Homo sapiens: one gene and its partner. The protein of the gene in region 1 interacts with the protein of each later gene in a pairwise test. Each region holds a gene or a part of one and is shown on either strand. Other genes may lie near its edges. The genes, in order: SRI and MORC3.

What was found.
Region 2: the proteins of SRI (region 1) and MORC3 interact in a two-hybrid assay, tested with the Homo sapiens proteins (one large-scale study listed by BioGRID and IntAct).

The regions. Positions count from the first base shown.
Region 1 is NC_000007.14:88,209,784-88,213,616, reverse strand, and holds part of SRI (sorcin), read left to right. Parts: intron 1-2,691; coding exon 2,692-2,735; intron 2,736-3,486; coding exon 3,487-3,634; intron 3,635-3,833. UniProt on the Homo sapiens protein: Calcium-binding protein that modulates excitation-contraction coupling in the heart. Contributes to calcium homeostasis in the heart sarcoplasmic reticulum. Modulates the activity of RYR2 calcium channels.
Region 2 is NC_000021.9:36,374,390-36,377,190, forward strand, and holds the end of MORC3 (MORC family CW-type zinc finger protein 3), read left to right. Parts: intron 1-753; coding exon 754-907; 3' UTR 908-2,243; downstream 2,244-2,801.

The DNA of each region.
Region 1 (3,833 bases):
AAGCACTGGGATAAGAGAGAGGCTGTGGAATCACATAGAATGGGCACATAACCCAGACAGGAGTCAGGAAAGTTTTCCTTGCAGAATTGATACCTAAGCTGAGCAGAAATGAGGCCGACCATGAAGTGAGTGGGATGGGGAAGTTGTGTCCTAGGTTGTTAGAACAGCATGTGCAGAAGACCCAGAAATAGCGTGGTTCAGTCAAGAAATTGAGAAATTCTCCATGAAGATAGTGTACGGGGTTGAACAAGAGTAAGAGATGAGCCTGACTTGCAAAATAAGTGTGTTACCTTATGTACCAGTTAAGGTGCTTGGACTTTATCCTGAGAGCAGTAGATCACTGATACTGGGTTTTGCATAGGAGAGCACATACTACCCCTGACTGTAAAGACTAATAAATTGGGGGACATGGAAGTAAAACAAGAGTCAGGGATGCCCATTAGGGAGCTGCTGGAGTCATACAGGTGAGAGAAATGCTAACTAAGGAGACAGTGGGGCTGGAAATGGACTCTACAGCTGTTTAGAAGGTGATTGATTATTGGTGGAGAGGGAATTGAGGAGGCTCCCAGGTTTCTGGCTTGGGTTACTGCTGAGTGGATGGGGGTGCCATTCATTAACAGAGACAGAGAAGCTGTCTGCCTCATAGCCCCTTCAATACCTTCATGTGAGCCCAACACAGTTGGCTCTGCGCTGTGGTTGTCAGGCCGTCCAGAGCAGTTCTTAAACTTTAGCAGCATTGGCATCACCTGGAAAGCTTACAAAAACCAGATTGCTGGGTCATGCCCTAGAGTTTCTCATTCAGAGGTCTGGAGTGAGTCCTGAGAATTTCACCTCTAACAGGTTTCCATGTGATGCTGGTTCAGGTTGAACCAGCTTCTTTAACATGAATATCTATCACCTGCACATCTGCTAAAATTCAGCTTCTGATTTTATTGGTGTAGGGTAAGGGCTGAGATTCTGCAGTTCTTCAAGCTCCTGGGTGATGCTAATATGGCTGGTCCAGGAATCACACTTTGAGTAGAATGGTGGTCTCAACCTTGGCTGCTCACTAGAATCATCTGAAAAGCTTTTTAAAAATACAAATACCTGGGTCCCACACTCAGAGTTCCTGATTTAATTGTTCTATGGTGCAGCCCAGGTATCAGAATCTTTTAAAGCTTTGATTCAGATAAGCACAAGTGTGGAGAACTACAGCTCCAGATTAGAGGGACTTCATACCTCCACACAACTTAAAAGTCAGAATGAAGAATCTACCAGCTCTTTCCCAAACTGTAAAAAGTGCTTCCTCCTCCTCTCACCTCAGAGAATATTATCTGTGGATCAAATGGAGATTGAAGGACCAAAATAGAAATAGTCACTAGTCTTTTATTTCCAGTAAAGCATATGCCAAACACAGGAATCTATTAAATGTGTAAAACCTATAGTTTGCACTGTTGGGAGACATTACAGTAATGAGCGCAGTTGTGTTTTAATTTCAGTTTGGTTTGAGAAAAAATATGAAGCTACAAAGAGCTGTTAAAAATGTTCTGTGTGTTAACAAGCTTGCAGAATTTATACCAGCTTTTCCCACGTGACCCTTGTCACTTCTGCCATTTAGCGTTGTAGCTTCTTTGTACCTATACAATTTCTTCAGTCATTGATTCCCATTAATTCAATGTAAGAGGTGGTTTTTAATTTCCTAATGCTTAGGTTACCAGTAACCACACCCATTGCATGTGCTCTGGTTTGGTTACATAAGTGAGGTACCAAAATGCCCTCATAATACTCCTAAACTGTAGGTAAATTAAAAAGGCTTCTGAATAGTGGCCACCACTGAATTGGTCATGGGGTCTTATCTAGAGTACTCTTATTTAACACATAATTCTAACAACCATATTTATCTGGTTTCATATATAAGCTAAGAGGTCATAGACTATTTGAGGTAGGAGGTTACTGCTCAGTACCTGACATTGAAGGGAAAATAGAAAAACAAGTAATCAGACACAAAATTAGCAAAACCAGCAATTTATAGTCATTTATGAGTAGGAACAAAGCAACCCTGACTTCCCACCCACCATGTTGGATATAATACATTATGGTTCGTTATGGTGACTTGAACTCGCTATATTACAGTTTCAAAGCAAGAAAGTATGAACAGTACTATGTAATACTTTTTTTTTTTTGAGATGGAGTCTTGCCCTGTCACCCAGGCTGGAGTGCAGTGGCATGATCTCAGCTCACTGTAACCGCCTCCTCCCAGGTGCAAGCAATTCTCCTGCCTCAACCTTCTGAGTAGCTGAGATTACAGGTGTGTGCCACCAGGCCTGGCTAATTTTTATATTTTTAGTAGAGACGAGTTTTTGCCATGTTGGCCAGGCTGGTCTCAAACTCCTGACCTCAGGTGATCCGCCTGTCTCGGCACCCCCCAAAGTGCTGGGATTACAGGCGTGAGCCACCATACCCGGACTATGTAATACTTTTTAAAAGGAATTCTGTCAAAGTTATTTAAATCAAATTTGGGTTCCTAGCAAAAAATCTTCTTTATGGAGAAAAGGCTACTTTGAAGTTCCATATGATTAGTCACACGTAAATTGATAGCATATAAAAATAAAAGTGTATAATAATCATATTTCTAATTAATTTGAATGTATCCAGTGTAATGTGAATTTTTGGATTTGTGTTAATATGTATGTACTTTTCTTGATTTAACAGCTTTTAACCTGGAGACTTGCCGGCTTATGGTTTCAATGCTGGATGTATCCTTTACTTTGATTGTTGTCTAGAATAATTTTTTCTAAAATTCTAAAGGAATTCATCTTAGAATTAATATCTAGTAAACACAAAGTAATAAATGATCACTAAAAAGCTTTCTGAAATAATTAGCTTCTATTATAGGGTGGAATTTGGTGTGAATAAAGGAAGAAAAGAAATTTAGTAAACAGAATGTTGTTCAGGAATTTAAGGAAACATCAGAGTATTATAGAACAAGTACAGAGTCCAGAGTGTCAGGACAGCTTTTTTTCTTTAACATTGATTCCTCTGCAAGTGATGGGATTTTTCACATCCCACTTGTTGGACTGAGTTTAGGTAGTGCTGACTATCCAGTGCATTCCATCCCACCTCATTTGTCTGGGGGCACTAAACAAGGGAATATTAGTACCAGAGATGATGCTAGGACAGAAGGGCAAACAGCATAGCCTGAAGCACCCACAAAGTACAGCCTAGTTCCAGTAACAAGACCGCTTTTTATAAGTGGTTCACAATGGCAACGCTATTTCCTTATAATCAAGTCATGTAAGTTATCTTTTCCCCACAGTAAAAATTGGCACTTGAGCTTTTTCTCCATAGCCCCTTTCTATTTTTAAATCATTAATTTTACATCATACCAAGAATAATCTACAATAACTTTTTTAGCCATTGAATATTGAATTCCCCTTATCCTTGATCTTTCATTTAATCCTTAGAAAATATCGCAAAATACAGCTCTAATCCTTGATTACAGTTCAGAGAGATATGTCTGGCACAATGGGTTTCAATGAATTTAAAGAACTCTGGGCTGTACTGAATGGCTGGAGACAACACTTTATCAGTTTTGACACTGACAGGAGTGGAACAGTAGACCCACAAGAATTGCAGAAGGCCCTGACAACAATGGGTAGGTATGGCTTACTAGAACTCTCCATTCATTGGTAGAAGTAAGTTGATTTTTATTTTTAAAACCAGGCTGGGTGCAGTGGCTCACACCTGTAATCCCAGCACTTTGGGAGGCCAAGGAGGGTGGATTGCCTGAGCTCGGGAGTTCGAGACCAGCCTGGGCAACACAGTAAAACCCCGACTCTACTAAAATACAGAAA
Region 2 (2,801 bases), on another chromosome or scaffold:
GTAAAAAAAAAGCTGCTTTAACATTGTTTAACACAATGTTTTGCAAGCTTATTTGACCACAGAACCTTTTATTACCTCTTACACAACTATGGATATCTTATAGAACATGTTTTAGATAATTCTGGCTAAGCATGGTGGTTCATGCCTGTAATCCCAGCACTCTGAGGTGGGCAGAATGCTTGATTGAGCCCAGGAGTTTGAGACCAGCCTGGGCAATATAGTGAAACCCCATTGCTACAAATAATAATAATAAAAATTAACCGGGCATGGTGGTGTGGGCCTGTGCTTCCAGCTACTCAGGAGGCTGAGGTGGGAGAATTGCGTGAACCCTGGAGAGCAGTGGTGCCATCGCAGCTCACTGCAGCCTTGACCTCCTGGGCTCAGGTGATCCCCCACCTCACCCTCTTGAGAAGCTGAGACTACAGGTGTCGTCACCAAGCCCGGCTAATATTTTGTGTTTTTAGTAGAGTCAGGGTTTCACCATGTTGGCCAGGCTGGTCTCGAACTCCTGGGCTCCAGCGATCTCCCTCCTCGGCTTCACAAATGCTGGGAATACAGGCATGGGCAAGTGCACCTGACTCATAAAAGTGAATTATTAAAGTAAATTGAGTTCTCTAGGGGAGGTTTTGCTTTTCCTTTTGTTTAATTGTATATTATTCTACGGAGATTTGATTTTGATATTTTACTTTTTAAGGTCTACATGAATCTTAACTTGTAATGCTCATCTAATAAGTTACATATTTGTATTTGCAGCCTCAAACTCCGATCTCTTCGAGTTAACGTAGGACAACTGCTGGCTATGATTGTGCCTGATCTTGATCTTCAGCAAGTGAATTACGATGTTGATGTAGTTGATGAGATTTTAGGACAAGTTGTTGAACAAATGAGTGAAATCAGTAGTACTTAAAGTATATGTTATGTAAGATAAAATATTTGCTCAATTCTTTTGGTTGTACAGCTTTCAAAATATAATTAATTTTGTTTTATAGATATGATAGGCAACAGACTGAAAACCATAATCTTTACTGTATTCTATGCATTCAAATGTGGTCACAAATATTGTGGACACATTATCTTATGTTTTGAAATACCTGTGAATTGTTGGCATTGAGCAGCTGAAGCTAACTCATGACTCTGTTTTGAATGTAAATATTTGTAATTAAGCCTGCACATATTTTTTTATTGCCCTAGAGTACTCAAGTGTTTTTCACCAAGAGCTTTTCAGGTTGCCCCTAAGCTTTGTGCAATTTTTTCTGGTTCCCCAAAGTGTATTTTTCTCTAAGTCGAGGGCTATGCCATAATACAAATGGAAATGTTACCTTTGATTTTCTTATAAAGGAGTTTAAATAGGATTTTTAAATAATGTAGTAACACTCCTGATACAACTCTGGTTATAAGTGAATTGAGCATTAATGTTTCTTTTGTATAAATTCCTGTCCTGAAATATTTTATTCATGAAAATAAGGTAAGCAAAAACCAACTCCATTTTGCCAGGATTTTGTTGTGCTGAGATTGCCAATCACGGTTAAACACAAAGTGTTTTTATAGAATGAAGAAACAGTCTTTAACAGAAAAAAGGTATTGAAATATTAAATGGCCACCAAGTTTACTTTGAAGCCCATTTTTGGCTGTTTAGTCAGCATGAAGTGGGCATGATAATTTTTTAATATTTCTTTTTGTGAAATTTCCTGTACAGCCTTTTGTAGGATTACTACAGGTTAATGTGAGTTGAGGAAGACAGTCTTTCTCAAACAATACTACATACCTTTTATTATATTACAAACCTAAGTGTTTTATATCCTAGAGTCAAGGAACAAATTTCCTTAGGATTATAGTATTACATGCCATAAAATACTATGCTTTATTGGTCCCATGTTTTGTGCAATTTTAAAGAGATGGCTTTCTATTAAGTATAAACTATGTATATATAAGAACCATATTTTCCACAACTAAAATGTGCATTATTTTTTCCAAAGTTTTATCATTGCTATTTATTTTTACCTTTGTTTTTGAACATTCAATCCGTTCATTTTGTATGTATGCTTAATACGTGTCGGTCATATACAGTATTGAATTTTTACTGTATAGTAATTCTGGAAAGAGCAAATAAATGAAGATTGTTTTTATTTGCCTGATAAAGTAATTGAAAGTGTATTTTTGGTATGAAGCTGGTTTTCTGTCACAATTGTAATTTCCCAAATTTTAAAATATCTTATAATAAAATAAAAATATATGATGGCTAACTGTTCAAATGCTACTTTTAAAGACTTAATATTAACCTCAAATTATTTTAAAACTAAAAATGTATTCATTAGACCCTCAACTTGAGCTCATTTTAACTACTTTAATTGCAGTTTATTTTTTGAAGACTGTTTCCATTAAGACTGAGGCTGAGCTCCTCTTTCCTCAGAGCATGTATATTCTGTTTTCAAAAGCTTTTTCTCAGCCTGGCGCAGTGGCTCACGCCTGTAATCCCAGCACTTTGGGAGGCCGAGGCGGGCGGATCACCTGAGGTCGGGAGTTCAAGACCAGCCTGACTAACATGGAGAAATGCCGTCTCTGCTAAAAATACAAAATTAGCCGGGTGTGGTGATGCATGCCTGTAATCCCAGCTACTCAGGAGGCTGAGGCAGGAGAATCACTTGAACCTGGGAGGTGGAGGTTGCAGCGAGCCGAGATCACACCATTGCACTCCAGCCTGGGCAACAAGAGCGAAACTCCGTCTCAAAAAAAAAGGACTTTTCTTTGTATAAATCATTTACTCTAGAGAAACCTTGCCTAAATAATAGCAGCTATGTAAA